Regions from separate parts of the Homo sapiens genome. Here regions 1, 2 and 3 are each linked to region 4. Evidence: fine-mapped QTL for protein levels in blood plasma. A gene starts in region 4. Each other region holds a variant in brackets. All regions are shown on one strand. Distances are between the middles of the regions.

The links. PIP is the posterior inclusion probability: the model's chance that the variant is causal. The UK Biobank Pharma Proteomics Project read protein levels with antibody pairs (Olink). The fine-mapping took linkage between variants from a reference panel, not from the people measured, so its PIPs are less certain.
Region 1: its variant is fine-mapped to the plasma level of the COL5A1 protein (UK Biobank, PIP above 0.99).
Region 2: its variant is fine-mapped to the plasma level of the COL5A1 protein (UK Biobank, PIP above 0.99).
Region 3: its variant is fine-mapped to the plasma level of the COL5A1 protein (UK Biobank, PIP above 0.99).

What each region holds. Positions count from the first base shown.
Region 1 is chr9:134,599,651-134,607,748 of GRCh38, forward strand. No RefSeq gene overlaps it. Among named protein-coding and RNA genes, the nearest start is that of COL5A1, 38 kb to the right of the region's middle. RefSeq lists enhancers at 2,659-3,571, 3,572-4,483. The variant A/G (reference allele first, on the strand shown) is at 3,291.
Region 2 is chr9:134,450,346-134,458,443 of GRCh38, forward strand. All of the region lies in intron 1 of LOC105376311 (a long non-coding RNA gene), which reads left to right. Among named protein-coding and RNA genes, the nearest start is that of MIR4669, 75 kb to the left of the region's middle. RefSeq lists enhancers at 4,004-4,839, 5,183-6,120, 6,121-7,057. The variant AT/A (reference allele first, on the strand shown) is at 4,777.
Region 3 is chr9:134,464,036-134,472,133 of GRCh38, forward strand. The region is part of intron 1 of LOC105376311 (a long non-coding RNA gene); the gene reads left to right. Among named protein-coding and RNA genes, the nearest start is that of MIR4669, 89 kb to the left of the region's middle. The variant C/T (reference allele first, on the strand shown) is at 3,808.
Region 4 is chr9:134,638,511-134,646,608 of GRCh38, forward strand. It overlaps COL5A1 (collagen type V alpha 1 chain), which reads left to right and starts at 3,293. Exons shown (of 66, transcript NM_000093.5): 1 at 3,293-3,786. The coding sequence starts at 3,678. RefSeq lists enhancers at 4,272-4,978, 6,234-6,818.

The sequences.
Region 1 (8,098 bases), 39 kb before region 4:
AGAGACACACAGAGAGACATAGAGAAAGAGAAACACAGAGAGACACAGAGACAGAGAAAAGAGAGAGACACACAGAAAGACACAGAGACAGAGACACACACAGAGACAGACAGACATATAGAGACAGAGACACACACAGAGACAGAGAGAAGAGAGAGACAGAGAGAGACACACAGAGACAGAGACACACCCACAGGGACAGAGAGAAGAGAGAGACACACAGAGACACACACAGAGACAGAGAGAAGAGACAGACACACACAGAGACAGACACACAGAAAAAGAGAGACATACAGAGACAGAGAAAAGAGAGACACATAGAGAGACACACAGAGACAGAGAGACACACAGAGACAGAGAGGAGAGAGAGATACCCACACAGACAGCAAGACATATAGAGATGGAGAGAAGATAGAGACACAGAGACAGACATACAGAGACAGATACTGAGAGAGACACAGACAGACAGACACACACAGACAGAAGAGACACACAGAGAGAGGAGAGAGAGGAGACAGAGACACAGAGGGAGAGACAGAGAGAAAAGAGAAGGAGGAGAGAAGCAGGGAATGAGAGAAGAGAGACAGGGTGAAAGGGGATGAGGCAGGAAGGAAGAGGGAGGGAGAGAGAGAAAGAGAAGAGAAGGAGATGGAAGAAAAGAGAGAGAATATAAAGATAAAATCCCAGCTGCCCTGGACGGGGTGGGCTGGGGATTCCACGCCCCATTCCATGGGGCTTTGCACTTGAAACCAGACTCTCCCACCTGAGTTCTGTTGCATCTGGAGCTTCAGATAAAACAAGATCACTTCTTAAGGATCACAAGGACCTGGGGATTTAGAAAATTGGATGATCCCACTTTTGCCAGGTTGCAACATTCTTCCTTTTCAAAGGAGTGTCCGTGAGTGATCTCCAGAGTAAGGTCCCCAACCTACATCAAGTAAAGGGAAATGAGAAGAAAAAATTCACACGGGCCGGGCGTGGTGGTGCCTGTCTGCAGTCCCAGCTGCTGGGGAGGCCAAGGAGGATCGCTTGAGCCCAGGAGTTCAAGACCAGCCTGGACAACATAGCGAGACCCAGTCTATAAAAAACAAAAAAAAAAAAAAGAAAAAGAAAAAAAGAAACCCACACGGGCAATGGAGAAGTAAACAGGATCATGGTCCCTGTTCTGCTGGCCAGGCCAGGCCAGGCCGTATTCTCAGCTGTCCCTCCCTGAAGCTCCTCCTTTGGGTGCACACGCTGCCCCTGAGCCACTTCAAGGAGTATCACTTCCTACTCTACCTGGTGGCCTGGAGCAGAAAGAGCCCCATCACCCGCCCTCTGGCTTTTCCAGCTTCCCATAGTTAACTGTCAGCGACCATGGAGCGCCCAGGGCAGAGTCCCCAGGCCCTGCATTTGCTGCTGTTTGCGTACACCGGGGTGTGCTGCTGGCTGTGGGGTCAGGGTCTCCTTGTCCCCCATGTGGACCCTGGGAGGGAATGAGCTGTCATTCCTACTTCTCACCAGTGCCCACCTCCCTCAGCTTCTGGGCAGGGGGCAGCACCTCCTCCCTCCTTGAAGTGGAGCATGGTCATTTGACTTGCTCCTGCAAATGAAGCCACCATTTTACTTCTGAGCAGAGGCACTGAGAGAAGTCCTCTGTTCCCACGGCCATGGACGATATTCCCAGGGGGTGGAGGCTCCAGCAGCCAGGACCACAGAGTGAAGGTGTCCAGAGGTACAGGACAGGCCCCTGACCCTCAAGGTACAAGGAGCAAGAAATACTTCCTTCTTGTTTTAAACCATGTAGATGCCAGGGGATGCTTGTTTCCCAGCATAACCATGCCTGAGCTAGCAGATACAGGAAGGAAGTATTATCTCCCTAAAGAAATGAGTGAAGTGACAACTGAAGGCCACAAACCCACTTCGTGACAGGACAGAGTTGGAGTCCAGGTTTTCAGGCCCAGGCAGGACCCTGGATCCTATGGAGAAACTTGGCTGAGCTGCACTCATTTCTTATGGGAAACACGAAAACCTCATTCTTAGGGTTCACGTCCTCCTGAGAGGGAGAGAAAGTTCATTTACAAAGGAGCAGAATCAGCTTGGTCCCAAGATCTCTCTGCAGCATGAAATGAAATGCCACTGGAGCAACAACACTCCAGCACACACTGAAGGATAGAGAACGTGACTCTAAATTCCATGCCCAGCGAGCTGCCTGCAGTGGGTGATGGCCGCAGAAGGGCGTGCTCTCAGCGGCAGCACACCCTTCTGGAAAAATATCCCTGAGGGGTGCACTCCAGCTGTGCCAGAGAGCAAGATGTGAAGACTTGCAAAAGGAGGCCATGGGGTGAGAGGTGGTGGTGATGAATGACTTCCATGTGAAGTCTTGCAAATTTGCTTATAAAGTGGAAAAATGCATATATGTCCTCAGCAGGTCACGTGGGAGGAGAGCCTAATGGTGGACATTTCTAGAGTCGATGCAGGTCCTGTGGTTTATGCTGTTTAATGCTCTGGGACCTGGGGTGGAGGGGGGACTCCTTTGCTCTGTTGGGCCTCAATTTCTCTGTTTATAAAAAAAAAGTGGCCTTTGGTCTCTCTAAGTTCTCTGTCGCCAGATGACTGGGGGGTCCTTCCACTATTTGGTAATAAGACTCCCCCCCCACCAACTCCCAGCTCCTGGTGTCTCACCAACATTCTGGATGTTTGGGGTGATGGTAAAAGGGTTTGTGTGCCTGCTGAGGAACAGTTTTATTCTGGGGACTTGGGGACACTCGTAGAAATTGTTTGAGGCCCCTTAGAGAATTGTAGAACCAGGATGCAGAGGCTGTGTTTGTGGTTTGAGCTGGTCAACTGGAGGAATCCAGGTTTCTGGGAACGTTGACCAGTGACTAAGTCCCATCCTTAGCTTGATGGCCCCCACCCCCACCCTGTCCCCAGATAGTGCCTATGGGGAAGCCTCGGGAAGGAACACTGCCCTTCCCCCTGCCCCGACACCACATCTGGGATGAGCCCCAAACCTCAGTTGGCTTTGATGCTGCAACTTTTTCCAAACCCTGAGCATGATTCACAGCCCAGACCGGCAGTGGAATTTCTGCAAACAGAGCCGGGGGCTCCGTCTGCGCTCTTGAGAGGTCCGCAGCTCCCACCTTCGGAATGGCCCGAGAAAGAGACTGGGAACGCGCGAGCCACATTCTTCCTGGATGAAACACTGGCCTTATCAGGAGGAAGTAATGACAAATGGCCTGAGCAGCTCCCAGCCAGGGGGCTGGCTCTTCTTAAATTTGCTTAGATGGATTTTCTTTGATGAGCCCAGC[A/G]ATTATGGGAACCCGCAGGCCTGCTCAAGGCCTGCATCATTGCCATTTCCTGACAAAGACTGGATCATCCGTCCTTCCCATCACCGCCCCTTTCTTCTTGGAGGAAAAGCCTGCTGGTGTGGTGCGAGGATGGCGGGTGTTCCACCCTGCCCTGGGCCACCAACACCACGGCCAGGGCGGCCCCCCTGCAAGCACCGAGGGGGTCAGCTCCGTGTTCTGGCAGAGCCAGGAGAGAAACGAGGAACTCTTGTCTGGTTAATTGCTATGTGTATATATGACGATAAAGGCATGTCGGCCGGGCGCGGTGGCTCATGCCTGTGATTCCAGCACTTTGGGAGGCCGAGGCGGGCGGATCACAAGGTCAGAGATGGAGACCATCCTGGCCAACATGATGAAACCCCGTCTCTACTAAAAACAATACAAAAAATTAGCCGGGTGTGGTGGCGGGCGCCTGTAGTCCCAGCTACTAGGGAGGCTGAGGCAGGAGAATGGCGTGAACCCAGGAGGTGGAGCTTGCAGTGAGCCGAGACCACGCCACTGCACTCCAGCCTGGGCGACAGACTGAGACTCTGTTTCAAAAAAAAAAAAAAAAAAAAAAAAAAAGACATGTCGTGTTATCTGGTGCCTTTCACCTGGCAGGCAGGGCATCGTGGGCCAGCGCAAGGGCACCACACTCTGGCCCAGAGCACAGCGAGGCTACAGAGAAGCAGTGGCCTCCTCGGGCCTCCAGCGCCCAGGGAACAACAAGGCCACCATTGTAAAGGGTACAGAAGGTCAACTTTCCAAGTCTAGGCACAGAGGGCCACAGGGAGAGAGACCCAGAAGGGATGAGATGGGGGGAATGTCCTTGTGGGAATGTGAGTGTGGCTGGGATTCTGCTGAGCGCACAAAGGCAGACACAACGCAGTGGACTTGAACGGGCATCCCCCAGTGATAAAAGCCGTTGTCCCCCAAGTGATGTTCCTTGAGGTTAGACGGAGCCAGCCTCATGTTATAGGCCTGATATAGACCTGGGGCACAGTGGACACTGGATGGGTGTTTGAATGCATGAAGAAGTAAAAAGAAGAAAAAAGGAAAGAAAGAGAAAAAAAGAAAGAATGAAAGAAAGAAAAGAAGGAAGGAAGGAGAGAGAAAGGAAGGAAGGAAGGAAAGAAAGAAAAAAAGAAAGAGAGAGAGAAAGAAACAAAGGTAGGGAGGGAGGGAGGGAGGGGAAAGAACGGAAAAGGGAGGGAAAAATAAGAAGGGAAAGGGAGGGGAAGAAAAGAAGGTGGGGGAGAATTTTCACTGGCAATGTGGTTCCCTCTCTCTCCTTCTCCATAGCTCCCTCCCCTCATGGCCTTCTTGGTGTTCCCAAGCTCCCACTCTGGGTCCCGGAGCCTTAGAAGGTTTGAGCTGTGCTGATACTCATTCTGGATACACACCGAGTGGAAGCGATTCTCACTGGAAATTAGGAGGAACAATTGCCCAGCACGTCACAGCTTGCAGAGCCTCTTCGACTATCAGCATTTTATTAGGGCGCCCCTCAAACAGCCCTCTGAGGGAGGCTTTTCCCTACCTTCATTCCACCAAAGACTCCACGTTGTAGAAACAGGTTAGATGAACTGTGCAGGGCTAAGCTATCTCTAGGAGCGAGAATTTAGATGGGGTTTGTCTTGGAATTCAAATTCCATTCATGCACAATTTCAGTTCCATTCTCAAATCCAATCTCTCTCTCTCTCCCTCACACAAACTACACTGGACTCCTCTGTGTGTGCCCGTGGTGTGATCACAGCGAATGCTGCTCCAGTGTGCCAGTCTCTGCCGATCGACAATCAGCTGCAGTTAGGAACTCGCTTTGTCACTTCACGTTACATGGTGAACATTTTCCCTGCAGCTAAACAGTCCTCAAAGCCTGTTTATTTTTTTTCCTTTATTAGATCAGATGTGGGTGAGACCAAAGGTACGATTCATCTTGAGGCAGATTTCCCTCCAGCTGTGAGCCTGTGAAATCAAGCACGTTATGCTTCCAAAATTCAATGGTGGGACAAGTGTAGCACAGACACTCCCATTCCAAAAGAGATAACTGGTGAAGAAGACAGGATAACAGGCCCCAAGCACGCCCGAAACCCAGTGAGGCAGACTAGTCTTAGACTCAAGAATAATCGTTCAGGCCGGGCGCGGTGGCTCATGCCTGTAATCCCAGCGCTTTGGGAGGCCGCGGCAGGCCGATCACAAGGTCAGGAGATTGAGACCATCCTGGCTAACACAGTGAAACCTCATCTCTACTAAAAATACAAAAATTAGCCAGGTGTAGTGGCGGGCACCTGTAGTCCCAGCTACTCGGGAGGCTGAGGCAGGAGAACGGCGTGAACCTGGGAAGTGGAGCTTACAATGAGCCGAGATCGCACCACTGCACTCCAGCCTGGGCGACAGAGTGAGACTCCATCTCAAAAATAATAATAATGATAATCATTCCACCTTCCGCACACACTGGGGCAGGGACTGGGCTGCAAGGCTCCTCCGGCACCGCCCCTGAGACATTGCTGGGTGGCGTCTGTAACTCTCTTGGACTGAAATCACAAGCCAGTGGCTCTACTGGTCTGGGATGGAGAGGGAGCCCTGGCCCCACAGCTTGGCTCCCGCAGGCATTACCGCTATGGGCCTCTCTGTGGGGCCCAGCCCCTGAAGTCATGCCCTGTCTATGTTGTGGGTCGTGAACCTGTGTCTCCAGCTGGCTCCATCTTTAGAAATCTAGCTGGAGGCAGCCACAGCTCTGTAGCTCATGCACTGTGCAAACTGGCAAAGATAGCACCATGCAGACACAGCAAAGGTTCACCCCTAGGTCCCCAGAGAGCAGGGCCAGTGTGGCCTGTGCCAGGTCTGGGCCCAGTGGATTCTAAGCTAGAGTGGCCCCTTTTGAATCATCTTGGCCCCCAGGCCCTGGCATTCTGGGCCTGTGATGGGAGGGGCAGCTCCAGAACCTCTGAAAGTCTTCGGTCCACTCTTCCATTGTCTTAGACAACAGCTCCTGGCTTCAGTGTAGATGGAACTGTCTCCTTCTCAGATGGGAATGCAGCCACGCCTTGAGTGTCTTCTCCTGAATACACTTTCTCATTCTTTTCAATGAGGATAGACTAAGAATTTTCCGAAGTTAAAGTTTTGCTTCCTTTTTGATTACAAATTCCACCTGTCTAAAGTATTCCTCTCTTCTGGCATTTTACTCCAAGCATTGAGAGAAGCCAGGCTTCACTCTTGACACTGCTTAGCAATTTCTTCTGCCAAATATCCTGTTTCATTGCATACAAGTTCCACCTTCCAGAGAACACCCAGACGCGACACAATTCAGCCAAGTTCTTTGCCACTCGGTAACAAGGATGGCCTTTCCTCCAGTTTCCAATAAGTGCTCCTCATTTCCATCTGAGACCTCACAATCATGGCCTCTCCCGTCCGCATCCCCACCAATCTTCTATTCACAGCCACTTAGGTCATCTCCAAGAAGACTGAGGCTTTCTCTCCTGCTCTCCTTCCGAGCCCTCACCAGAATCATTCCCGACAGTCAGTTCACAGTGATGTGGGCTTTTCCTAGCACACACCTCAAAACTTTTCCAGCCTCTACCCATTATCCAGCTCTGAAGCTGCATCCACATGTCCAGGGGTTTGTTATACCAACAGCCCACTTCTCAGCACCTATTTTCCATCATAGTCTGCTGGGTCTGCTATAACAAAATACCCTAAGTCAGGTCACTTGAAAAAAAACAGGGGCTGGGCACAGTGGCTCATGCCTGTAATCCCAGTACTTTGGGAGGCCCAGGCAGGTGGATCACTTGAGGTGAGGAGTTTGAGACCAGCCTGGCCAACATGGTGAGACCCTGTCTCTACTAAAAGCACAAAAATTAGCCAGGTGTTGTGGCACGCACCTATAATCCCAGCTACTTGGGAGGCTGAGGCAGGAGAATCACTTGAACCTGGAAGGCAGAGGTTGCAGTGAGCTGAGATCGCACCACTGCACTCCAGCCTGGGTGACAGAGCAAGACTCCATCTCAAAACAAACAAACAAAAAAAACCAGGAATTCATTTCTCACAGTTCTGGAGGCAACAGATTTGGTGTTAGGTGAGGACCTGTCTCCTGGTTTACAGAAGGTGCTGATGCAAGGCAGGTGAGCCCCAAATTGGGGCTTAACCCACAAGAGTTCTTGGCTTTGCGCAGGAAAGAATTCAAGGGTGAGAGGACAGTGTTGAATAGCAACTTGTATTGAAGCAGCCATGCACACAGCAGCCGAGGTCCTGCTCCTTGCAGAGCAGGGCTACCCCATAGGCAGTGAGCCCAGAGTAGCAGCTCAGAGGCAGGGCTGCAGGCATATTTATACCCATTTTAATTATATGCAAATCAAGGAGCCGATTATGCAGAAATTTCTAGGAAAAGAGTGGTAACTTTCAAGTGGTCAGATGGTTGCCATGGCAATGGTAAACTGACAATGGCGCATTGGTGGGTGGGTGTGTCTTATGGAAAGCTCCCTCCTCTCCATTCCTGTTTTATTTAGCTTGTCCTCATTTCCTCTGGTGTCTGAGCCCCACCTCCTGAATCAAGCCCCGCCTCCTGAATCCAGCCCCACCTCCTGAATCGAACCCCACCTCCTGAATGGAGCCCTGCCTCCTGAATCAAGCTCCGCCTCCTGTCTCAGCACCTTCCTGCTGAATCCTCACATTGTGAAAAAGGACAGAGTAGCAGCCGGGTGTGGTGGCTCACGCCTGTAATTCCAGCACTTTGGGAGGCCGAGACAGGTGGATCACGAGGTCAGGAGATCGAGACCGTCCTGGCTAACACGATG
Region 2 (8,098 bases), 190 kb before region 4:
GTCAACTACAAAGCGACTATGAATTCTAATGAGTTGAACCCCACTGGGACACAACTAAGTTGTCCCCAGAGACTGCAGGAAGCCTCAGGAGGGTGCCTTCTGAGGTCAAAGGAAGACAGAGGGGAGAAAGTGGCATGCCTGGGGCCTGCTTGTGGTGCCTGGCCTTGAGGCTGGTGGATGCCTGCATCTGGAGCTGGAGCCCTTGGTCCCAGATAAGCATGTGAGGAATCAAGTCATGGGGAAGGCAGTGAGTGTGGGAGGTGGTGGTGGGGTTGCTGATTTGGACAGCATGGCAGGTGGGGCCTCCACGGGAAGCCGACCTGTCCTAGTCCACTTGGGCTGGGTGGCTCACAGACAGCAGCTTATTGCTCATGGTCCTGGAGGCTGGAAGTCCAAGATCAAGGCACCTGCGGATTTGGTATCTGGCAAGGGCCCATTGCTGGTTCAGAGCTGGCTGCTTCTGTCTGCATCCTCACATGGCAGAAGTGAGCAAGGCAGTTCTCAGAGACTTCTTTTATAAGGGTGCTCATCCCACTCATGAGGGCAGAGCCTCCCAGAGGTCCCATCTCCCAACATCATCATCTTGGAGGTTAGGATTTCAATGCATGACTTTTGTTGAGACACAGATATTCTGTCTATAGCACAACTACACAGCAATACAGGGAAAGGCATCCCAGGCTGGGGGAACAGCATATACGAAGGCTCAGAGGCAGGAGAGAACTGAGGTGTGCAAAGAGTAACACAGAGACACATGGGGAGAGAGGCTGGTGATGAGGCGGGGACCATTGGGGCTGAGGGTTCTCCATGTTGCCCAGGCAGACATGTGCTGGAATTGCTGGATGTATCGCCCAGACATCCAGCAATTCCAGTGCTTCTTCTCAATCCCCCTTCGAATGCCTCTTTCACCTTTCACAAACGTTTCCTCCTGCTCAGGAGGCTTGCCTGGCCTGTGTCTTTGCTCCCTCCTTCCCTTCCCTCTCTCCCTCCATCCCTTCCTCTGCCTTATAGACTCCTCCCTGAGAAGAAGGCCAGCTCCCAGTCTTCCCAGTCTTCCCCTCCCTCAGGCCCAATCCAGCCTGAGCACGGTCTGGATTTAGTCTTTAGGCTTGGTCAAGAGTGTGTTTGCAAACCTCTTCACTCCTTGCTGGCTAGAGCTTCCCATCTTCTTAACCAGGTCCCCTGAGACTCCAAGGCAGGCACCCACTGGGGCTGATCACATGAATAAATTGGGTGTAGTTCCAAGAGGTGGGAACTGTGGTTTTGTAAATTTCACAAGTTGTCTGCATTTCACAAGTGCACAGGTGTACCATGGTGAATCAGAGGCTCCAAGGCAAGGCTCATGGTGTTTAGCCCTGTGCATACACCACCTCATCTCCCTACCCATCTATTCACCCACCCACCCATCCATCCATCCACCTACCCATCTACCTACCCACCCACCAATCCATTCATCCATCCATCCATCCATCTACCCGCTTACCAATTTATCCATCCATCCATCTATTCATCCATCCATCCATCTACCCATCTATTCACCCATCCACCCATCCATTCACCCATCCATCCATCTACCCACCCACCAATCCATCCATCCATCCATCCATCCATCCATCCATCCATCCATCCATGCATCCATCCATCCGCTTACCAATCCATCCATCCATCCATCCATCCATCCATCCATCCATCCACATCCACCTACCCACCCACCAATCCATCCATCCATCCATCCATCCATCCATCCATCCATCCATCCACATACCCTCATCCACCCATCCACCCATTCACTCACCCAGTCATCCATCCATCCATCCATCCATCCATCCACACACCCATCCATCCACCCAACCACCCATTCACTCACCCAGTCATCCATCCATCCATTCATCCATCCATCCACCCACCCACCCAGTCACCCATCTGTCTACTTATCCATTCACCCAGTCACCTATCTATCCACCCAGCCAACCCACCCATCTATTCATCCATCCATCCACCCTCCCATCCATCCACTCATCCACCCACCCACCCAGAATTCATCCATCCACCTATTCATTCAGCAAATACAGACTGGAAATTGCATGGATTAGGTCCTGTACTTGGCTCCAGGAGAGAGCAGAGTTTGCAGAGTCTGTTCAACAGAAATCCAATGTGAGCCATATATGTAATTAATTTAAAATTTCCTAGTAGCCACACTAAAACCAGGTGAAATAAGTGTAATATTTTATTTAACCCGATACATAAACAATATTATAATTTCCACATGCAATCAATATAACAATTATTGAGATATTTTACATTCATATTTTGGTGGCAAGTCTTTGAGATTTGGTGTTTATCTTAGCCTTATAGCACATCTCAATTTGTACAGGTCACATTTCAGGCTCTCGAAACCACATGTGGCAAGTGGCTTGTGCATTGGACAGTGCAGGTCTAGAATATTCTCATGGTGTTGCATGTGGGCAGCAAATGTGGGCTGATCTGTGCCATGAGGAGGCCATAATCAAGGTGCGATGGGAATATGGAGGAGAGGCAACCATGGGTAGAGGAGGCTGAATGGCTTCCCAGAGGAGGCAGCACTGGAGCAGGGCACTGACGGATGAACAGGAGTTCTTCAGGTGCGAAATAGGGAAAAGAAAATCTCCCAATTCCCTGGTGCCCCAAGTAGGGCTCATGAAGGTCCAGGTCAGCTTGAAGAAACCAAGGGCCTTTAATGACCTCCCCACCAGGTGCTCCTTATAGACCCATGGTTCAAATCATCTTATTCCTGCCCCCTGGGCCAGTGTTGACGTTTCCCCATCTTATAGTGACGAACACTGGGGCCTGGAGGTCCAGCTGCTTACAGCCACGGTTTTCAGAGCATCTACCATGAGCTAGAGCTCCACCCCAGATGGTGGGGTTGGAAGTACAAGGAGAAAAGGAGGTGTGGAATAAGGCTCCTTGCTCTGAGCCCGTAAGCTCCCTCTGGGTGGGGGCTCTGTGGGTTGGTGCTGGGAGACTCGCTGTCCCGCTGACCTGCCTTCTCCCATAGATGGTGGCCCTTGAGACCACATGGAACCAATTTCCCAATTAAGCTAATTGGAAGAATCATGGCATGCCTTTCTGGTTATCGGCCTGGGAGGGCAGAATGGTGCCTGCGTGCCGAAGAGTCCATAAACGTTGAGCTATGCTGGCCAGACCATTGGACGGTATCACCTGGTCCAACCACTGTTTATGAGGACTTCCCGAGATCACTGAGGCTTTTAGGCTACTGTGCGTGTGCCTGTGAACTTCCAGGCCCTGTACCTGCATGTTATAGGAGGAAGTGCTGGGGTGGGGGGCTGTGGAGGGGCTCCTGAAACTTGTCTATAACCAGGCATGGCCATCTGGCTCTCACTTGGGTGGACTTTCTTAGGTCTAACTGCAATCTCTCTTGCTGCTGACTCAACATGCCCCCTCCCCCTCCCGAGTGGTTGGGGCCCCAGGTGAGCACTGGCCGGCGGGGCTGCTCACGATTGCTATCCAAGACCAGCCTGGAAAGCTGCCATTTTCATTAAAACCCTTAGACATGAATCTTCCAAAATGTTTCTATGAAGAATCCAAAGGAACCCGTGTCAGGGACATCCTTAGCTGGATGGGCAGCCTGGGAGCGGCGGCATGGGAGCAGCAGCATGGGAGCGGCCGGCCTGGGACAAGCTCCGTGTGACCACAGGCTCATCCTTTCTGCTCACTCGAGGTCTCGGCTTTCCCTTTTGTGGAAAGAGGGAGTTGTTCTGGAATCCACACCCTATGGTCCGTGTGATTTGGTGGGGGCAGCAAGGAGGCCTCCCCCTCCCCTAACACTGCCTCCCTGCTGCCCGGGATCACAGCCGCTGGGCTCCGTCCTGAGGGTTTAGCACTGCCCTCCCCTTTCTCAGATGCTTGCTGCACATTTCAGGGTGGAAAGGGCCCGACCTCATTCTTTCTGGGAGTCCGAAGAGGTTTGAGCAGGGCCCAGCACGTGGCCACTGCAAAGAGCGCTTGCTCTCAAAACCCAAGCTCCACCTTAGTTCAAGAGAGACGCCGATACTTCCCAGGAGGCAGCCACCACCAGGCCCCCAGTTCTAGGGCCCCCGTCAAGGCATGGGCCAGGCCCCATTTGTCTCCTCCACTGCTGAAGAGGCGGGGCCAGGGGTGACAGGAGCAAGCTGCATGAGATCAGGGTGGGGTTCTGGCACCATCCCAGGCTGGCTCTGTGACCTGGGCACGTCATAACCCCTCTTCCTGCCTCCATCCCACATCATCTGTAAAATGGAGGTGACGCCAGCTGCCCTGGCTCCCACTGGACTGTAATTTTGTCTGTGGTTTTCTCCGCCTCCTCCCCTCTCCTGCCTCAGTCGGGACTCATTCAAGCTGATCACCTCCCAGTGGGGTGCTGGTGGGTTCTGGTCACTGTGCAGGAAAGGGTTAACTCAGCAGGCCTGAGTTGTCCACACCCTGCACATTCCAAAGAAAGGTCTGGCTCTGGCCTAGCTCCTGGGAGGTGACCTCTGACCTCTAGCCACTTGAAATATACTGCGTGATAAGTGTCTGTGTTTGCTTGGGGGTCTTGGGCCACCCTAGTGACCGCGCTAATGATGTCATTTACAGTGGGACCTTGGGCTGTGCTGTATCGGCTCATCATCCTGGGGATGAGACCAAGGCCAAGCACACGGGCAGTGAGGCATGTCTTTGCGATGGACCCCCAGTAGGAACCCTGAGCCCCGAGGCGTGGCTGGGCCCCCCTGGCTGGTGCACACCATTCTGGGAGAATTGAGC[AT/A]CGTCTGCCCGACTCTACTGAGAGAAGACCCCTGGGTGCTGGAGTCTGGTCTCCCCTAAACCCTGCCCTCTAGAGATGCCCAGTTTGCTGGTTCGAGGCTATGTCCTTTCACGGCGCTAAACCCTGACCTCGGGTATCGCTGCCTGGCTGAGTTCTGTGAGCCAGTCCAGCACGTCCCTGAGCCTGAGGGTGGTTTGGGGACCCTGAACTGCAGTGTCAGCATTTCCATGGATGGGTTCTGAAGGCAGGTGATGAGGAGGTGTCAGCCTGGGTTGACTACGAACTTTCAAGTCCTATTTCTGAAACAGCCCTTGGAAGGTTCGGGGGCCATTTTACCCCCTCTAGACATTTTGCTGAGCCTTTGCCTGGCCTTGACACCTGTCTCCACCTGTCCACGTTCCCAGCTCTGCCCACCAGGGACTGTGCCTACACCCAGGGATGGCCTAGGTCAGAGAGGGACAGGCTGTGGACTGAGGTCAGGCGTGAGCCAGCCCTGCCTGCCCCCTACAGTTGGGAATCCTCTGGGCGAGGGAGGCAGACAGGACAGAGGGATGCCGCAGGGGAAACCTACAGGTGTCCCCTTTCCCTGGAAATGGCGGACCTCCTTCTCCAGAGACCCTCACGTGCGTCTCTCTCAGGGACGCCTTGGGCCCCCACGGCGTTTGTGCCCAGCTGCCAGGCCTCTGATAAAGCCGCTTCCTCGCCTCGGCCCCCCTTCCCTGCCTGTGCCTCAGGAAACCCTGGGCCTCCTTCAAGGCCCTTCCCCTGTAAGCCCCTCCGTGTCGGGCTCTGCTGTGTCTTCCGAGACCACACCTGTCCTAGGTGCCTGGGTCCAGGTGAGGCGCTCCCTGCTGCCAGCAGTGGACAGAGACTGGTTTTAATTAAAGCTCCCAGCAACCACCCCTATCGCCGTGGAAACAGAGGTTCCGGTGGAGACGTGGCTCCCAGGCCACACGTGTAAGTAGCGCAGCTGGGAGTGGCGCCCGGAGCAGCCCGAACCCAAAGGCTGATCTTGACCGAGGTGCCCTGCTCCTTCCCGGCCGCGGTCTCCACTCGGCCCACTGCTGGGCCAGGGCCGCAGCGGCCGGAAGGGGCTGTCCCTCATGCACCGTGGCCCTCCGGCCTTGTCTCTCAGCGCCCAGACCCCAGGCACAAGGAGGCAGGGGGCTGGGACCTGCCTGGAGCCTGCTGCCCCAGCTGCTGACGTGGTCGCCCCCGCCCACCCTGTAGACGTGGCCGCCCCCACCCTGCCACGTCGCCACTTCCACCCTGCAGGCAGGAAGCTGCACGCTCTCGCTCTCTTTGTGTAACTTTTGGAGGGTTGTAGTTGCAGGAAACATCTGGATGTGGCCCAAGGAACATAATAAAAAAAAAAGGGAGAGCCGCGGGGAGAAGGCAGGGCTGGGGGAGGTTTGCAAAAGCCATCTGATTTCACTTTGCAAAGACAACTGCAATTATGCCTCTGAGGGTTTGCAGTCACTTCACATTCTAGCCATGCGGTGACGTCAGTGGGAAACTATGAAGCTCGCGGACTGCGTGGTGACACACACCCCACGAAACATGGCTCGGGCCAGCTGCCGGCCATGCTCCAGCCCGACAGCCCACCAACAGGGGTCTCTCCCAGAAGGAGGGAAGCTGTAGCTGGGAGAGGGGGTCCCTAACTTTGGACATGCTGGGTTGTCCCCAATCGCCCTCCGAGCTCCAGCTGTGCCTTCCCCTGCTCAGCCTGCATCTACCCCATCTGACCCCACAGGCTCCTGGACAGAAATGGCCCGGCCTTGCCTAGAGCTAAGCTTCCACTCCAAGGCAGAGCTATGGGGGTCCGGGCTGGCAGGGGGGCCATGGCCAGGCCCTCAGGGCTCCCTGCTTTCCAATGGCCCCAGGATCAGCGGTTTCCACAGTGTCCTGTAGCATGCGGCTGGGTGTCTCCATCGTCCCAGCATCCTGTGGGGTGGGCCGAGGGTCTGTGTCCCTCTATGTCCCGTGGGGTGGACCCCGGGTCTGTGTCCCCCTGTGTCCTGTAGGGTATGGCTGGGGTCTGAGTACCTCTGTGTCCTGTTGGGTGGAGCTGGGGTCTGTGTCCCTCTATGTCCTGTGGGGTGGGGCCGTGGTCTGTGTCCCCCTGTGTCCTGTCAGCTGGGGCTGGGGTCTGTGTCCCTCTGTGTCCTGTGTGGTGGGGCCGGGGTCTGTGTCCCCCTGTGTCCTGTCTGGTGGAGCTGGGGTCTGTGTCCCTCTGTGTCCTGTGTGGTGGGGCCAGTGTCTGTGTCCCCCTGTGTCCTGTCGGGTGGAGCCGGGGTCTGTGTCCATCTGTGTCCTGTGTGGTGGGGCCGGGGTCTGTGTCCATCTGTGTCCTGTGGGGTGGGCCGGGGTCTGTGTCCCTCTGGGTCCTGTGGGGTGGGGCCGGGGTCTGTGTCCCCCTGTGTCCTGTGTGGTGGGGCTGGGGTCTGTGTCCCCCTGTGTCCTGTCGGGTGGAGCTGGGGTCTGTGTCCCTCTGTGTCCTGTGGGGTGGGGCCAGTGTCTGTGTCCCCCTGTGTCCTGTGGGGTGGGGCCGGGGTCTGTGTCCCTCTGTGTCCTGTGGGGTGGGGCCGGGGTCTGTGTCTCTCACAGTGTCCCCAGCTTCTGGTCACTATCTCTGTCCCTCCTGCCCTGGGGTCATCCTGAGCTGGGTCCTGCCTGCCCTGAAATCTCAGGAGCTGGGGTGGTTCTCTCTGCTGCTTCTCTGCCCAAGAGTCCAAGGGCTTCCCAGGGACAGTGCTGCACCCTGATGGAGCCCAGGCCTCTGGGCGAAGGACACAGCCTCTCCCAGACCTGCCCCAGACCCCTGAGGCTTTTTAGTGCAAGGGGACCCCCAGGGCAGGAAGGGTTTGCCTGCCACGTGGCAAGTACTTCTGCCTTGAGGCCGTCACAGACAGGGTCTCTGGACTGTGGTGTAGTGTCCTGTCATCTCCAGGTGTAGTCTCAGAAACGCCTTGAAATGAAGCCTGAAGGGGAAGCCCAGTTCCATGGTGTGGACGAGCGTGTCTGCCGGAGGCCTCGGAGTCGCATCCACCGGTGTTTATTGACAGCTGACTGGTGCTGTGCCCTGAGACCCAGGCCCTGCCCTCTGGCACTCAGTCTACCAGGGGCCAAGGCCTGCACCCTCCCTCTGGGCTCACCTTGGTCAAGCCTCTGGTGGACTTTTAAGGCCCACGGGGAACCCCCCCACAGACCCCCTTCCCACTCTGCAGGTGGGCCGCTGAGGCCTCTGCAGACGGGCCTGAGCAGCAGGGCCTGTGCTTGTCGAGGCCCCATGGCTCCCGCCATGGCCAGGGTGAGATGCAG
Region 3 (8,098 bases), 170 kb before region 4:
CTCCTTCCTGGGCCTTGGGGAAGCCAGTCTGGGACCTAGGTGGCCAGTTAGTTCTGGGTTTGCAGCCTCGGCTCCTGGAGACCCCGCTGTAGGCAGAGCTCCTGTTCTGTGCTGGAAGTTTGAGTCCTTTGTGGAGGACACAGTGGGGGAGATGGAGGATGGTTTATGATGCTCTGTGCCCCTCCTGGGCAAGGGGATGCCAGGGCTGGTGAGCACATGGGGTAGGAGCTGAGGCATTGTGGGGGTCCTGGCCATGTCTCTCACTTGTGAGGACCTGACACTCACCGGGGCCAGCTCTTGTGGATGACATCGGTGTCATGAGCTCTGATGGGACATCATGGGGCTTCCTGGATAGGAAGGGAGTCCTGCCGGCCTCTTGGGGGTAGAGCCGGCAGCCTCTGCCTCTCCTGGAGGCCCCGGTGTCATGCCTCAGCTCTTCCCCACACCTCTGCGCTGCTCACCCAGCCGCCCCCTCCCATTAGTGCCCACTCTGCACCACACGCGCCTCTGCCCGGCTCACCCAGCCGCCCCCCCATTAGTGCCCACTCTGCACCACACGCGCCTCTGCCCCGCTCACCCAGCCTCCCCCCCATTAGTGCCCACTCTGCACCACACGCGCCTCTGCCCCGCTCACCCAGCCTCCCCCCCATTAGTGCCCACTCTGCACCACACGCGCCTCTGCCCGGCTCACCCAGCCTCCCCCCCATTAGTGCCCACTCTGCACCACACGCACCTCTGCCCCGCTCACCCAGCCGCCCCCTCATTAGTGCCCACTCTGCACCACACGCGCCTCTGCCCCGCTCACCCAGCCTCCCCCCCATTAGTGCCCACTCTGCGCCACACGCGCCTCTGCCCCGCTCACCCAGCCGCCCCCTCATTAGTGCCCACTCTGCACCACACGCGCCTCTGCCCCGCTCACCCAGCCGCCCCCTCATTAGTGCCCACTCTGCACCACACGCGCCTCTGCCCGGCTCACCCAGCCTCCCCCCCATTAGTGCCCACTCTGCACCACACGCGCCTCTGCCCCGCTCACCCAGCCTCCCCCCCATTAGTGCCCACTCTGCACCACACGCGCCTCTGCCCGGCTCACCCAGCCGCCCCCCCATTAGTGCCCACTCTGCACCACACGCGCCTCTGCCCCGCTCACCCAGCCTCCCCCCCATTAGTGCCCACTCTGCACCACACGCGCCTCTGCCCCGCTCACCCAGCCTCCCCCCCATTAGTGCCCACTCTGCACCACACGCGCCTCTGCCCGGCTCACCCAGCCGCCCCCCCATTAGTGCCCACTCTGCACCACACGCGCCTCTGCCCCGCTCACCCAGCCTCCCCCCCATTAGTGCCCACTCTGCACCACACGCGCCTCTGCCCCGCTCACCCAGCCTCCCCCCCATTAGTGCCCACTCTGCACCACACGCGCCTCTGCCCGGCTCACCCAGCCGCCCCCCCATTAGTGCCCACTCTGCACCACACGCGCCTCTGCCCCGCTCACCCAGCCTCCCCCCCATTAGTGCCCACTCTGCACCACACGCGCCTCTGCCCGGCTCACCCAGCCGCCCCCCCATTAGTGCCCACTCTGCACCACACGCGCCTCTGCCCCGCTCACCCAGCCTCCCCCCCATTAGTGCCCACTCTGCACCACACGCGCCTCTGCCCCGCTCACCCAGCCTCCCCCCCATTAGTGCCCACTCTGCACCACACGCGCCTCTGCCCGGCTCACCCAGCCGCCCCCCCATTAGTGCCCACTCTGCACCACACGCACCTCTGCCCCGCTCACCCAGCCGCCCCCTCATTAGTGCCCACTCTGCGCCACACGCGCCTCTGCCCGGCTCACCCAGCCTCCCCCCCATTAGTGCCCACTCTGCGCCACACGCGCCTCTGCCCCGCTCACCCAGCCGCCCCCTCATTAGTGCCCACTCTGCACCACACGCGCCTCTGCCCCGCTCACCCAGCCGCCCCCTCATTAGTGCCCACTCTGCGCCACACGCGCCTCTGCCCGGCTCACCCAGCCTCCCCCCCATTAGTGCCCACTCTGCACCACACGCGCCTCTGCCCCGCTCACCCAGCCTCCCCCCCATTAGTGCCCACTCTGCACCACACGCGCCTCTGCCCGGCTCACCCAGCCGCCCCCCCATTAGTGCCCACTCTGCACCACACGCGCCTCTGCCCGGCTCACCCAGCCTCCCCCCCATTAGTGCCCACTCTGCACCACACGCGCCTCTGCCCCGCTCACCCAGCCTCCCCCCCATTAGTGCCCACTCTGCACCACACGCGCCTCTGCCCGGCTCACCCAGCCGCCCCCCCATTAGTGCCCACTCTGCACCACACGCGCCTCTGCCCCGCTCACCCAGCCTCCCCCCCATTAGTGCCCACTCTGCACCACACGCGCCTCTGCCCCGCTCACCCAGCCTCCCCCCCATTAGTGCCCACTCTGCGCCACACGCGCCTCTGCCCCGCTCACCCAGCCGCCCCCTCATTAGTGCCCACTCTGCACCACACGCGCCTCTGCCCCGCTCACCCAGCCGCCCCCTCATTAGTGCCCACTCTGCGCCACACGCGCCTCTGCCCCGCTCACCCAGCCGCCCCCTCATTAGTGCCCACTCTGCGCCACACGCGCCTCTGCCCCGCTCACCCAGCCGCCCCCTCATTAGTGCCCACTCTGCGCCACACGCGCCTCTGCCCCGCTCACCCAGCCGCCCCCTCATTAGTGCCCACTCTGCGCCACACGCGCCTCTGCCCCGCTCAGCCAGCCGCCCCCTCATTAGTGCCCACTCTGCGCCACACGCGCCTCTGCCCCGCTCACCCAGCCGCCCCCTCATTAGTGCCCACTCTGCGCCACACGCGCCTCTGCCCCGCTCACCCAGCCGCCCCCTCATTAGTGCCCACTCTGCACCATACGCGCCTCTGCCCCGCTCACCCAGCCGCCCCTCCATTAGTGCCCACTCTGTGCCACATGTGCCACTGCCCATGTCCCTTGCTTCAGTTCCAATGGGCCTACTGGCCTCGGATCCCTTGTCCACTCCAGGTCTGCACTTGGGAGATGGGGTCACCTGGTGCTGGGCCCCTGAAGTATGCCGATGACCTGGGCCCTGCAGAAGTGTCCAGCTTGGGGAGGCGGGAAGCAAAGCAGAGCTCCGGGGTGGCCTTTGATTTTCTACTTCCCCCAGCCCCATTCCAGGGACCCCTCCACCCTGCTACACCCACCTGCATGCAGGGACATGAGCCGAGAGCCCAGAGGGGACCCGTGAGAAGGGAGGGAGGAAAGTGAGAAGACTCCGGTACCAGCAGCCTGGAGTTACACTGGGACAACCAGACGCTCCAGGGTGCATCAGCAGAGGACGACCCTGTCCCTGAGCAGCTCCCAGGCGGCTCTGCCATCCTGGAGGCCCCTGGGGCGCTGTCCTATCAGCACCAAGCAGCTGTGCTCCCAAACTCTGGGGCGTGCAGCCTCAGGGCAAGGTGGCTTTGGGTGGCTGATGGTGCCCCCTCAGGGACTCTGAGCAGGTCTGAATCTTTCTGAGCCCTTGTTTCTTTAGGTACAAAGCAGAGATGCTTACCTGCCAGATGGAAGGTCTGGGGGAGGGGAAGGGACTTCAGAACACGCCGCTGGGGCATAAAATTATTTTGTGCAGGAGGCATTTGAGTTTCAGAAACCCCTTATCTGAATAAAAGCAGAGCCCCCCAAAAGAACTAGAAATAACTCAACTGCTGTACATCCCTCCCTGGAGTGGCCAGGGAAGATGGACTCTTATCATAGTCAGTGACGAGAAACCTCCATAGCACACGGATACGGGCGTGGTCCCAGAGCCA[C/T]GCTACCCCAAATCTGTCCACCTCAGGGCCCATTTACCTTTCCAAAAAGCCATTCGTTTTCCTGTGTGTGCCCTTCTCCTTCTCCCCTGATTTTTGTGTACCTCTAAGAGGATATGTAAGCCCCAGATTCTAACCACTCCTCTGAATCCCATTTTCCTGTGGTCTCCCATGTACATTTCTACATGAAAACATTTTTTTCCTCTTCCTAATCTGCCTCTTGTCAGTTTAATTTGCAGGACACAGTGGCATCATCAGAGATGGCAGAGCTCTTTCACTCCATGGGAACTGCTCTTGGAGCCCCTGGCCCCTTGAGGGGACCTGAGACTCGGGGAGGAGGGAGGTCTGCTTATGTCAGGGTGGGGCTGGGCTGACCTGTCTCCATGCACATCAGGCAGCCTGGGTCCTGTCTCAGCCTGGCCAGCATGATCGACTCCTATTCCCACGTCCGAGCCCTTTGCAGGTATTACCTCCTTTCCAGAAGGGGCTGCTGCCTTTTGTTGCTCTTCCTAAATCAGGTCCTGGGCCAGGTAGTTTAGGAGCAATGAGGTCCTTAATGTTTATGGCCCCGTGCCCTCCTTCACAGGTGGGGGAGCTGAGGGTTTAGAGGGATGGCGCGACTTCCCCCGAGTGCCCCAGCAGGATATGAGGCCAGGCTGCTACATCCATCCCAGGACCCTAGGGCCCTGCAGGCGGAGGCTGGGACCTCTGCACCCACCTCAAAGGCCTGTCCATTTGCAGGGCGGGACTGCCCACGAGGCTGGGCCTGATCCAGCTCCAGACACCAACCCCATGGAATCCCAGTTCCACCTGGGGCAGCCTGTGATGAGCAGGTCACCTCACCTCTCCAAGCCTTGGTTTTATGTCTGTAAAGTAGAGGCAATGTTATCCCTCGCTGCACAGGGTTGATGCAACGGGGCAAGAAATAAGGTGGGGGAGACAGGCTGCCTGCGTTCCCCCCAACACGCATGCTCCCTCAGGAACCCGATGCCTGTGCAGCCTTGCCAGGCTAGCACGGGGACCTGCCTCTCAGAGGCAAGACCCAGAATGCACCCATAGTATGGCCACTTGATCTGGGACCCTGGCAACCTCCTCCCCTGTCTCTGGGCCTCAGTTTCTCCCCCTGCACCACGGGGGGCTACGCTAGTTGACTGGAGCCCCTTCTTGGCCCAGTTTGTGCAGAGCATGAAACCAGTCACCCGGGTGTCCTGCTGGCCTCCCAGACCATGCGATGCTGCTGGTTAGCAACCACAGAAACAAACGCATCAAGAGGCATTCCTTGGCTTTAAAAAGAGGCCGTTTGAAGAGGCAGGCCGGCCTCCCCCGCCCGGTGTGCCCGGCATCTGGGAGGGGCAGGGCTGGGAAGGTGATGAGTGCATGGCAGCCAGACCTTGGCTGGCCGGAGGAGGCCGGCGGGCTGGGGCCCTGGCTTTGGTCAGGCTTGTTTTATGTCAGGGTGACTTGGGCCGTGGAGGAGCCGCCGTCTTGCCAAAACAATGTTTAAAACATCTCGGAAAATGTGCAGCCACTTCTTTTCCACGGGATTCATGCCGAGTCTTCCTGGCTTGTTGGGGAGGGTTGAGGACTGGCCAGGAGGGAGTGAAGAGGGCGGCCACAGGAAAAAGAGTGAGAGACTTTAGACTGAGGCAGGGGCCTGTCCCTGCCCTGCCTGCCCTCCCTGTCTCTTCTCTCCCTGTCCCCCACCCCTCACCACCCACCCCAGGAAGTCAAAACTCTGTCTCTGTTTCTCTCGCCACCCCAGGCCACCCTAGGAAGTGGGCACTAAACCCATTTCACAGATGGGCAGCCACAGTGCTGGGGTAGGAAATGAGGATTCTGACCCACCCAGCGTGGGGGCTGGGAGCTGGATCGGCTACAGAATGTGTAGAGCCTCTGCAAAGAGAAAACAGAGGTCCCACATTCCAGATGGAAATAACTAAGAATTTTAAGAGGGCAACAACAAAGCATTAAACCAACTACAAGACCCTCCTGAGCCTGGGTTCTCACGAGCCGGGGTCCTCCTGAGCCTGGGTCCTCCTAAGCCTGGGATCCTCCTGAGCCTGGGTCCTCCTGAGCCTGGGGCCCTCCTAAGTCAGGGTCCTCCTGAGCCTGGATCCTCCTGAGCCTGGGTTCCTCCTGAGCCTGGGTCCTTCCATGTCAGGGTCCTCCTGAACTGGGGTCCTCCTGAGCCTGGGTCCTCCTGAGCATGGGTCCTCCTGAGCCTGGGTCCTCCTGAGCATGGGTCCTCCTGAGCCTGGGAACTTCTGAGCCTCGGGTCTTCCTGAGTCAGGGTCCTTCTGATCCTGGGTCCTCCTAAGTCTGGGGTCCTCCTGAGCCTGGGTCCTCCTGAGCCTGGGGCCCTCCTGAGCCTGGGGTCCTCCTGAGCCTGAGTCCTCCTGAGCCTGGGGTCCTCCTGAGCCTGGGTCCTCCTGAGCATGGGTCCTCCTGAGCCTGGGAACTTCTGAGCCTGGGGTCTTCCTGAGTCAGGGTCCTTCTGATCCTGGGTCCTCCTAAGTCTGGGGTCCTCCTGAGCCTGTGTCCTCCTGAGCCTGGGGCCCTCCTGAGCCTGGGGTCCTCCTGAGCCTGAGTCCTCCTGAGCCTGGGGTCCTCCTGAGCCTGGGTCCTCCTGAGCCTGGGGTCCTCCTGAGTCAGGGTCCTCCTGAGTTGGGGTCCTCCTGAGCCTGGGACCCTCCTAAGTCAGAGTCCTCCTGAGCCTGGGTCCTTCTGTGTCAGGGTCCTCCTGAACTGGGGTCCTCCTGAGCCTGGCAACTCCTGAGCCTGGGTCCTCCTGAAGCTGGGCCCTCCTGAATCAGGGTCCTCCTGAGTTGGGGTCTTTCTGAGCCTGGGTCCCTCCTGAGCCCAGGTCCTCCTGAGCCTGGGACCCTCCTGAGTAAGGGTCCTCCTGAGCCTCAGTCCTTCTGTGTCAGGGTCCTCCTGAACTGGAGTCCTCCAGAGCCTGGAAACTCCTGAGCCTGGGCCCTCCTGAGTCAGGGTCCTCCTGAGCCTGGGACCTCCTGAGCCTGGGAACTCCTGAACCTGGGGTCCTCCTGAGTCAGGGTCCTCCTGAGTTGGGGTCCTCTTGAGCCTGGGGTTCTCCTGAGCCTGGGACCCTCCTAAGTGAGAGTCCTCCTGAGCCTGGGTCCTTCCATGTCAGGGTCCTCCTGAACTGGGGTCCTCCTGAGCCTGGGTCCTCCTGAGCATGGGTCCTTCTGAGCCTGGAAACTTCTGAGCCTGGGGTCTTCCTGAGTCAGGGTCCTTCTGATCCTGGGTCCTCCTAAGTCTGGGGTCCTCCTGAGCCTGGGTCCTCCTGAGCCTGGGGCCCTCCTGAGTCAGGGTCCTCCTGAGCCTGGGTCCTCCTGAACCTGGGGTCCTCCTGAGCCTGGGTCCTCCTGAGCCTGGGCCCTCCTAAGTCAGGATCCTCCTGAGCCTGGGTCCTCCTGAGCCTGGGTCCTCCTGAAGCTGAGTCCTCCTGAGTCAGGGTCCTCCTGAGTTGGGGTCCTCCTGAGCCTGGGTCCTCCTAAGCCTGGGAACTCCTAAACCTGGGTCATCCTGAGCCTGGTAACTCCTGAGCCTGGGGTCCTCCTGAGCCCGGGGCCCTCCTGAGTCTGGGGTCCTCCTGAGCCTGGGGTCCTCCTGAGCCTGAGGCCCTCCTAAGTCGGGGTCCTCCTGAGCCTGTGTCCTCCTGAACCTGAGGCCCTCCTAAGTCAGGGTCCTCCTGAGCCTGTGTCCTCCTGAGCCTGTGGCCCTCCTGAACCTGGGTCCTACTGAGCCTGGGTCCTCCTGATCCTGGGATCCTCCTGAGCCTGAGTCCTCCTGAGCCTGGGGTCCTCCTGAGCCTGGGTCCTCCTGAGTCGGGGTCCTCCTGAGCCTGGGATCCTCTTCAGCCTGGGACCCTCCTGAACCTGAATAGTCCTGAGCTTGGCTCTTCCTGAGCCTGGAATCCTCCTGAGCCTGGGGCCCTCCTGAGTTGGGGCCCTCCTGAGTTGGGGGTCCTCCTGAGCCTGGGTCTTCCTGAGCCTCGGTCCTTCTGAGTCATGGTCCTCCTGAGCTAGGGTCCTCCTGAGCCTGGGTCCTCCTAAGCTTGGGTCCTCCTGAGTCAGGGTCCTCCTGAGCCTGGGGTCCTCCTGAGCCTGGGGTCCTCCTGAGCCTGGGACCCTCCTGAGTCAGGGTCCTCCTGAGCCTGGGTCCTTCTGAGTCAAGGTCCTCCTGAGCTGGGGTGCTCCTGAGCCTTGGTCCTCCTGAGCCTGGGTCTTTCTGAGCCTGGGACCTTCCTGAGCCTGGGTCCTCCTGAGCC
Region 4 (8,098 bases):
AGGCCCTCCTGGGCCCACTTCAGCAGTCTCTGGACCATAAATGCTTAGAGGGCAAGCAGATATCTGCCTCCAGGCACTCCAAGAAGACCTTGTTCCTCCACCTCCTCCATGGGTCTAGGAGAAGAAGAAGGGACAATCTGGCTGCCCCTCAAGGCCTTTGTCTTGGGAAGCAGCTGGCCATTTTCCAGCCAGACGTGACTCTGGGAGGCTGGTGTGACCCCTCAGGACTGGTGGTGAACCATCAGGTCCACATGAGAGCAACACCTGATGGTTGCCATGGCCGCTCTGTCCGGACCACAGCTCTGCCGCTCGAAAAATAAATGAGAGGAAACACAGCCTTGGAAGGAGAAGTTGGGCCATCGGACTCCACGTGTAAGGTGCAGGGCACCTGGCCTGCTCCACTCTCTGCTAGGCACTGTGGGAAACACGCAGTGATGGGTGGTGGCGCTCCCGGTGGCCCAGGAGTACACAGGGTACAGGACCTGGTTAGCCTTCTGCGGTGAGTGCCATGAACAGGAGCAGGCAGCCGGGGAGGGCTAGATGGGAAACGATGGATAGCAGAAGACAAGGAAGACACACATGCAAAAAAGGGGCCACCTCTGCATGGGCGTGGGAGTCACTGCTGCATTGCAGGTCAATGTGGAAGGGACCCAGGCACCTTGCTCACCACATACTCCCTAAAGCCTAGAGCGGTGTTGGCAAGGAGTATGCGCGCAATAAGCAGTTTTCCAAGGACTCTGGTTTTGCTCAGTTGTGGGAGGGCATGGAACATGGTGAGTTTGGGACAATCTGCACCAGTTGCTGTTGTCTGAATCTGGGCAGGGTGGTCCTGGCGGCAGGCGTGTGGTCCGGATGCCATGGGGAGGCAGGCAGTGCACACTGGGCTCCAAGCATGGAGACCTGGGTCCAAATCCGGACCCTGTCACGGATGAACTGGGTAAGTCCCCTACCCTCTGTGGCCCCTGATTTCCTCATCTGTGGATGGGAGAGATGCCAGTATTCCCTACCGGTGCATGAGAACTGATGCACGTGTGGGTGAAGAGTGTGAGGCAAAAGCCTTAAGATGTGGCTGATATTCTTAGCTTGGCAACACAGTTCGAATCCTGATTGGTACTGCCGGGCCATTCTGCCATAGTCCCTGGCTGACACATCAGGCCGCCAAGTTTGGGGACTTCTCTCTGAGTTTCCTGGTGGGATAGAAACTCATCTCTCCACCCAACTCAAGGCTCAGATGAGGGTGGAAACTCACATTTGACAGCTTTCCAAGCCACCGCACCACTTGCTCTCCAAGAGAGGATAAAGTGCATCTGTCATGGCTGCTTGAGCTGCAAGACTGAGCCATCTTACCATTGCTGAGAAGTCAACTTTTGGGGGACCTTGGGGTGGTCACTTGAGTGTCAGCTCTTAAGGCGCCAGTTGTGTTAATTCAGGGCAAAGTTTAGATGCTGGCTGTGAGTTACAGGAGGGCTTGCTGACTGGCACGGATGTGCACATGGGACTGTCAGAAAGGAACTCCACTTGTGCTTGGGGAAAAAGAAGCTGGAACCAGAAAGCCTCCACTCTCTTCTGATAACCAGGCCATGGCCTGTGTCAGCACCCCTAGTCTTCAGGGGTGAAGCTGGCCTTGCTGGTAGGGGCGGGGGCACTCCAAGGACCAAGCACAGCTGGGGCTGGCGCGGAGTCTGGGGTTTGATGGAATTTCTCACTCATTGAAGTCCACAGGGAAAGTAAAGGGCCAGTGGCTGCAGGTTAACCAACGCACAGACACGCACACAGGCACACACACAAACACACACATGCACACAACTCACACACATTTTTGCCTGATCACATATGCCTTATACAAGTTGTAAAACAAAATAAAATCAACAAGGAAACAGGTCAGAACTAACATTTGCTTTACTGAATGTATCTCAAGCACCTCCCCACGTCTGTGTGTGAAGAGCTTCTCATTCTTTTCCTGCGAAATATTTGATATCTATGCAAGCGCATGTGGCAGATATGGAGACTAAAAGCCTCATCACCAAGTTAGCAACAGCGACCTATCACCCAGCTCCGGAGCCTGCCATGGCTATCCTGGCAAACCTAACCTCGGACGCCTCTCTCACCTCCTGTTTCCAGAATGGTGAGAATTAAAGAGCATTTGGGGAATTTCACGCCCAGTCTGGAGATGTAACTGGAGAGGGGAGTCCCAGCCCTGTCTGGCATCTCTGGCTAAATTGTTTGTTCAAAGGGAATGGGGATGGCCCAGGGTTTGCAAATCGTTCTTAATTCATTCTGATTCCCTCCTTTTAAAAAACTAGCCCTGCAGCCCTTGGGGAAGGGGTGTGGGTCAGGCTTCAGGAGGCTGTGCAGGGAGGCCAGGCCTGGGGAAGCTGGAGGGAGAGACGCCCACCTACCACCCAGAGACTGGCGGGCCTCCTGCTGGAGGAGACCCCGAGGGGCTTAAAGAAGCCAGGCAGGAGAATCAGGGCCCCAGCTCTTCTCCGAGAGCAGCCGATCAGGAATGCCTTCTCCCTGCGCCAGCTGTCACTCCCAAGGGGATGCCTTCTTTGGTTTCCTTTTTATTGCAGAGGGGCCACCAGGGAGTGGGCAGGAGTGAGGGGTGAGAGCCTGGGGGCCGCAGAGCCAAACTTCGCCTGATTAATAACCCAGATGTTCCCGTCCAAGCACATGGAGGTCCCGGGAGCTCTTGGGAAGTCAGACCCCAGCTCGGTCCCGTGCCAATCTGCAGTTAGGAGGCAGGTCCTCGGTCCGGGTTGACACGTAGGCCACAGTCTTGGGCGCCCTGATCTGGCTGGATGGGAAGTTTAGTCTCCACCCAGAAGAGGAGCTCTGAACTCCTCCACGTTAAAGAAAAAGTTAGGCGGGGTAAACTGCAACTTTCTTTTTAACCCGAAGTGATCAAACCTCGGGGCCCCTCTGCACTGGTTCTTGGAGCATGGCCAGGTGCGGGCACCTGGGGTGGGAACAGTGGGGGGACCAGGGTGGGCCCCTGGGCTCCGAGGCCGCCCCAGGCCCGCCCGCCTACCGGCTCTCAGAGAAAGAACAGGGGGCCGCGCCCGCCCCACGTCCGCTCCGCCCCGGGCCAGCCCCTTCCTCGCTGCGACTCGCCCGCTGTCCCCACCCCCTCGCCCGCGGCGCCCAGTGGGAGGCGGGGGCTGGCCTCGCCGAGCCCAGCGCCGGGCTCTGATTTGCTGCGGGCGTTGGGGATCGACAGCCTCCGCGGCTGCCTTCCAGGAGAGAGGGAGGGAGGAAAAGGGGGAAAAAAGTGCTCCGCGCCGAAGGCGAGGTCCGCACTCTCCGTCCCCGCGGCTGGCGCAGGACCTCACTCGAGCGGAGCGCCCACGGGGAGCGGGTCGCGGGGCGGCGGCGGCGAGGAGGAGGCGAGAAGGAGTTGGAGGAGGAGGAGGAGGAGGCGAGGGCGAGCTAGCCCAGCGGGGTCCCGGCCGCCCCGCGGGCCAAAGTCGAGCCCTCCCGCCCGTGGGCGAGCGCGCCAGCCGCCCCTTCCAGAACAGCCGCCGCCACAAAGAAGAACGGGGGGTGCCGAGGTCCCCATGACCTCCTAAAGTGGTGCGGTCCCTGCTGAGTGCGCTGCCCGGGCCGTGACCCGCGCCCCTGTGCGTCCCCGCGCGCCTCCGAGCGCCCCTGTGCGCCCCGGCCCGCGCCCCGCCGGCATGGACGTCCATACCCGCTGGAAAGCGCGCAGCGCGCTCCGCCCGGGCGCCCCGCTGCTGCCCCCGCTGCTGCTGCTGCTGCTGTGGGCGCCGCCTCCGAGCCGCGCAGGTAAGGGCGCCCCGGGGCGCGGGGCTGCGGGATGGGGCGCGCGCAGCCCGGGCGCCGCTGTCATCCCCGGGCGCCTTCGCCCGCAGAACTTTTCTTCCTTGGCCTGTGGAATGCACGGGCCAAGACCACGAATGCCATTTGCTGGGGGCCCCCCCGAGATGACGACACGCAGACACAATGCCCGCGGGCGCGCCGCCGCCCCCTCCCCAGACGGGCGGGTCGGGTGGGGCTGTCGCGCGAGCCGAGGAAGGACCGAGGGCTGGATCAGCAGGAGGGGTTGTCCACGAGGCGGGCAAACTTTTGTCCCAAAAACCTTCCTTCTCTGTCCCACATCACAGGCGCCCAGCTTGGGCCCTCACAGCCCTACAGCAGAACTTCCTCTGCTCCAAACCGGGCAGGGCCGCCCCCTAGAGTTACAGCCCTTCAAATCCCGGGACTCCTGGGGATGGGGGGAATCCCAGAAGCCTGGGCCCCCAGCACTGAACTTCCCCCAGGCACTGTCACTCTAGGCTGAGCTGGCGCCCTGCTTTCCCCAGGGACAGCGTTTCCTGCAGCCTTGGTCACCTAAGTGTTCGGGGGCACTGGGGACCCCTGCAGGGTGGTAGACAGCCCTGCTCCTAATCCCACCCCCAAACTTCTTGATCCCTGGAAGGCAGCTTTTCCTGGATTCGCTGCTGAGAGATGGGATGCGTGGAGCAAAGCCAGAGATGGGCTTGCAGGCGGGGCTGTGAGTGGTTGGGATGATATGCAGATGTGGGATTCCTTCTGCCAAGGGTCAGCCCTTAGAAGGAGGCTTGCTTCCCGGGGAGGGCGCTTCAAGGCGGGGACTGTCTGCGTCCCTGCCTGGGTTCTCGAGGGTTCAACTCTCCCTGGCGCAGCTTCCTGACGGGGGAGTTTTTCTAGGCATCGCTCTTGGTAGTTAGTGGCGGGGTGGGTTTTCACAGACTCTCGAACATCAGAGCCCCCAGCCCTGGAAGGTCCCCCGAATCCTTATTGACAGGCGGGGAGATGGAGGCTCAGAGCTGTGTGCTGCCAGGTCAGGAGAAGTGGCGGGCAGAGCGATGGGACGGTGGGCTCAGCGAACGTCTGGACCAGCCCGCCGCCTGCCAGCAAGAATGCTTCTCTCTGCTTCACGATTGGAAGACAAGTGGGAAGAATCATTGTCCGTGTTCCGCTTGTCAATTAAAACACTCTTTTCCTTTTTCCCTGGCACGATCAGTGCTTGTTGGGCTAACTGGATGAGCTGGAGTCTGGGTGTGGGGGCTGCCCTGGGGCTCTGGGGGAGGAGCCAGGAGCCTGGCCTGGCTCCCAGGACCTGGGATCTCATCCCTGGGCCGCCACCAACTCTCTCCTGACCCTGGGCTAACTGGGCTTGTGTTTCTCCAGGGGTTAGCTGAAGGTGGGGGACAACAGAGGTCCCCAGAAAAGTGGAGAGGAGAAGGAAGGTGTGGTCAGGGACTGTGCCATTGCCGGGGGACTAGGCCCTGTCTCAGCGCCTCTGGGGACTTTTCCCCAGAAACTCAGGAGGGAGTCCTTCAGGGGAATCGTCACCCTAGACAGCTGGGGCAGGGCACTGCCTGGGGACCATGCACCGGACTGGGCTTGGGGTTCCATTTCCCTCCCTGCCCATCTCCCCACCTCCACACTGTCTTTTTCCCTCTCTGGTTGCCCTCGCTAATCGAAGTGCGGCTCGTTGGAAGTGGGAGTGAGGATGGCCCAGAGCAGCAGGCTATGGAGTTGGACATTTTGCTTTTGTCAGAACAGACTTTTAGAAGCATGTGGAGAGACCACTTTTCTTAGTGAGTTTTGCCAACGTCTCTCCACCTCCCAGGGTGGGACCTATTTGGAAGTCATCCTTCGAGCATGGCCAGAGGGGGCGGCTGTCCACTGGAGATGCAGGCGCTGGGGGGAGGGGGCGGCTGTCCACTGGAGATGCAGGCGTGGCGGGGAGGGGGCGGCTGTCCACTGGAGATGCAGGCGCTGGGGGGAGGGGGCGGCTGTCCACTGGAGATGCAGGCACTGGGGGAAGGGGGCGGCTGTCCACTGGAGATGCAGGCGCTGGGGGGAGGGGGCGGCTGTCCACTGGAGATGCAGGCGCTGGGGGGAGGGGGCGGCTGTCCACTGGAGATGCAGGCGCTGGGGGGAGGGGGCGGCTGTCCACTGGAGATGCAGGCGTGGCGGGGAGGGGGCGGCTGTCCACTGGAGATGCAGGCGCTGGGGGGAGGGGGCGGCTGTCCACTGGAAATGCAGGCGTGGCGGGGAGGGGGCGGCTGTCCACTGGAGAGGCAGGCGCGGGGGGGAGCCACCAGCAAGTGCCTGCTGTCTTCTCCATCTTCGGATCTGCCAGATGTTTTCTGAGGGTTTTCTGAACACAGTTCTTTTGCCTGCTTTCTTTTGGCCAAGTGTGTGAAGGAATGAAAAGTAAGATTGCATTTGGGGCTGCTGAACAGTGTAACGGGGAAGGAGAGTATGGGAAATGAAACATGACCCCAATATTTGGAAATTGAGGTCATCTCCTCTACACGCCATTGGTTGACTCCAGTCACGTGATTGCTTTTTGCAATAATTTGTGGGGAGAGTCGGCCAAGTTTTGTGAGACTTGACAGGTATCAAATGGTTAAATTTCCTCTGACTCAATCAAGTTGGCTGGAAAGACATCCTTTTCCATCCTCTGCCCCCTCCCTCCCTCTCCCCATAAAAGAGCAGTGAGTGGGAGGAGCTCAGAAGCCCCAAGAATTCCCCAAGCCCTCTCCCTGCTGTGGTCCAGATTTGCCGGAGGGGTTGGAGTTTTGGTTGCTACCCAGGGCTGTGCCCACCCAGCAGTGCGGCAGCCCCAGGCAGGGGCGTGCTCCCAGTGCCAGGCTCACAGTGGTTTCTCCAGTGATGTTACTCCTGGGCTGCTCCTGCGGGGCTGGCCAGAGCCTGCTCTTCACCCCGCCCTGCAGATATTTCTGGACTCCCCACCGCCACGCCTCAGCCGAACACAGCTGGTGCTGCCCGTCCCGCCCTGCCTTCTCGCTGCCTGGCCTGTCTGCCTGCCCTGCCTCCTCCCTGGACCGCCCCATCCCACCTCCTGGGAGATAGACCTTGATAGGTGGAGTAGGGGCTGTGCAGAGCAGTGAGCTGCCCCGCTGGAGGGCGAGGATGAGTCCCCAACACTTCCCGAGGGCACCCACATAGGAGCCTGAGCCAAGCTGCATCTGGAACAGTGCAGGACCTGTCCCTGCTCGGTCACGTGACGTGGCTCTGGGAATGGCCTTGGGAGACAATCACACATGGGAATGGAGGGGCTGGCACTTGCCTGGCCTGTGGTGAGCATCAGCTGCACCATCTCACTGCACCCTCACCCGGGCCTGAGAAGGGACAGAGCCTAGGAGTCAGGGGGCAGGGATGCCAGGCAGATGTCTTCCATTCCTGCTGTGGGGCCCTAAGCCAGCAACGGCCCTTCGCCTGGCATGGTCACTCTTTGACTTGTCACAGTTCCCTCTTCTCACTTCCCATCGGTTTATCAGCTCTCCCCGGGGAGAAGGCCAGGGCCCTGAGCTATAGTCCTGGCCTGGGGGCCCAGTCCAAACAGGGTCCTGGGAGCAGAGCCATTCCATTTGGCCAACACAGCTTTTAAGTTCCTTTCTTTCTCCTTCCCCCTCCATCCTTCCCTCCTTCCTTCTTTCCTCCCTCTCTTCCTCCCTCCCTCTCTCCCATCCCCTTCCTTCCTTCCCTTTGTCCCTCCATCCCTTCTCTTTTTACTCCAGTGCCTTCAAGAGGGATGCAGCAGCCACAGTCTCCACCACTTCCCAGGCCTCTCTGCACATCAGCATAACCTGCCTGGACCCTGAAGGCTTTTGCCTTTTCACCTGGGTCGGGCCTATCTTGGGGAGACCGAGGCAAATGGGATGGGACCCCTCGTTTCCTTCCAGGAGCTCACAGTCTGACAGGCAGACCATTGTGAATTTTACTCAGGGCCCTCCATGGGATGTGCTGGGTCTTGCATCCGACAGTCTGGGAGGGTTAATTGCACTGGGGAGAGCTGGGGAGCTTCCTGGAGGAGGTGATGTGAAACTGGCCTTCCCTCCTTCTCTTCTCCTTCCTTTTATTGCAGAAATGACCCTCCTTCGTGGGGTCCTCCTCCACCTCTGGCTTTAATCTTGCTCTCTTCCCTCCTTCTGACAGGACATTCCACACCGTGTCCCAGAGCTCTCCTGGGCGGCTCCCTTGGCTGGAAAGCCCCTCATTCACGGGCTTGGCAGGTGCTCCCAGTATCTGTTTGCCAGGAGAATACAAGTGCCCCTAAGGGAAGTGGCAGATCCTGGCA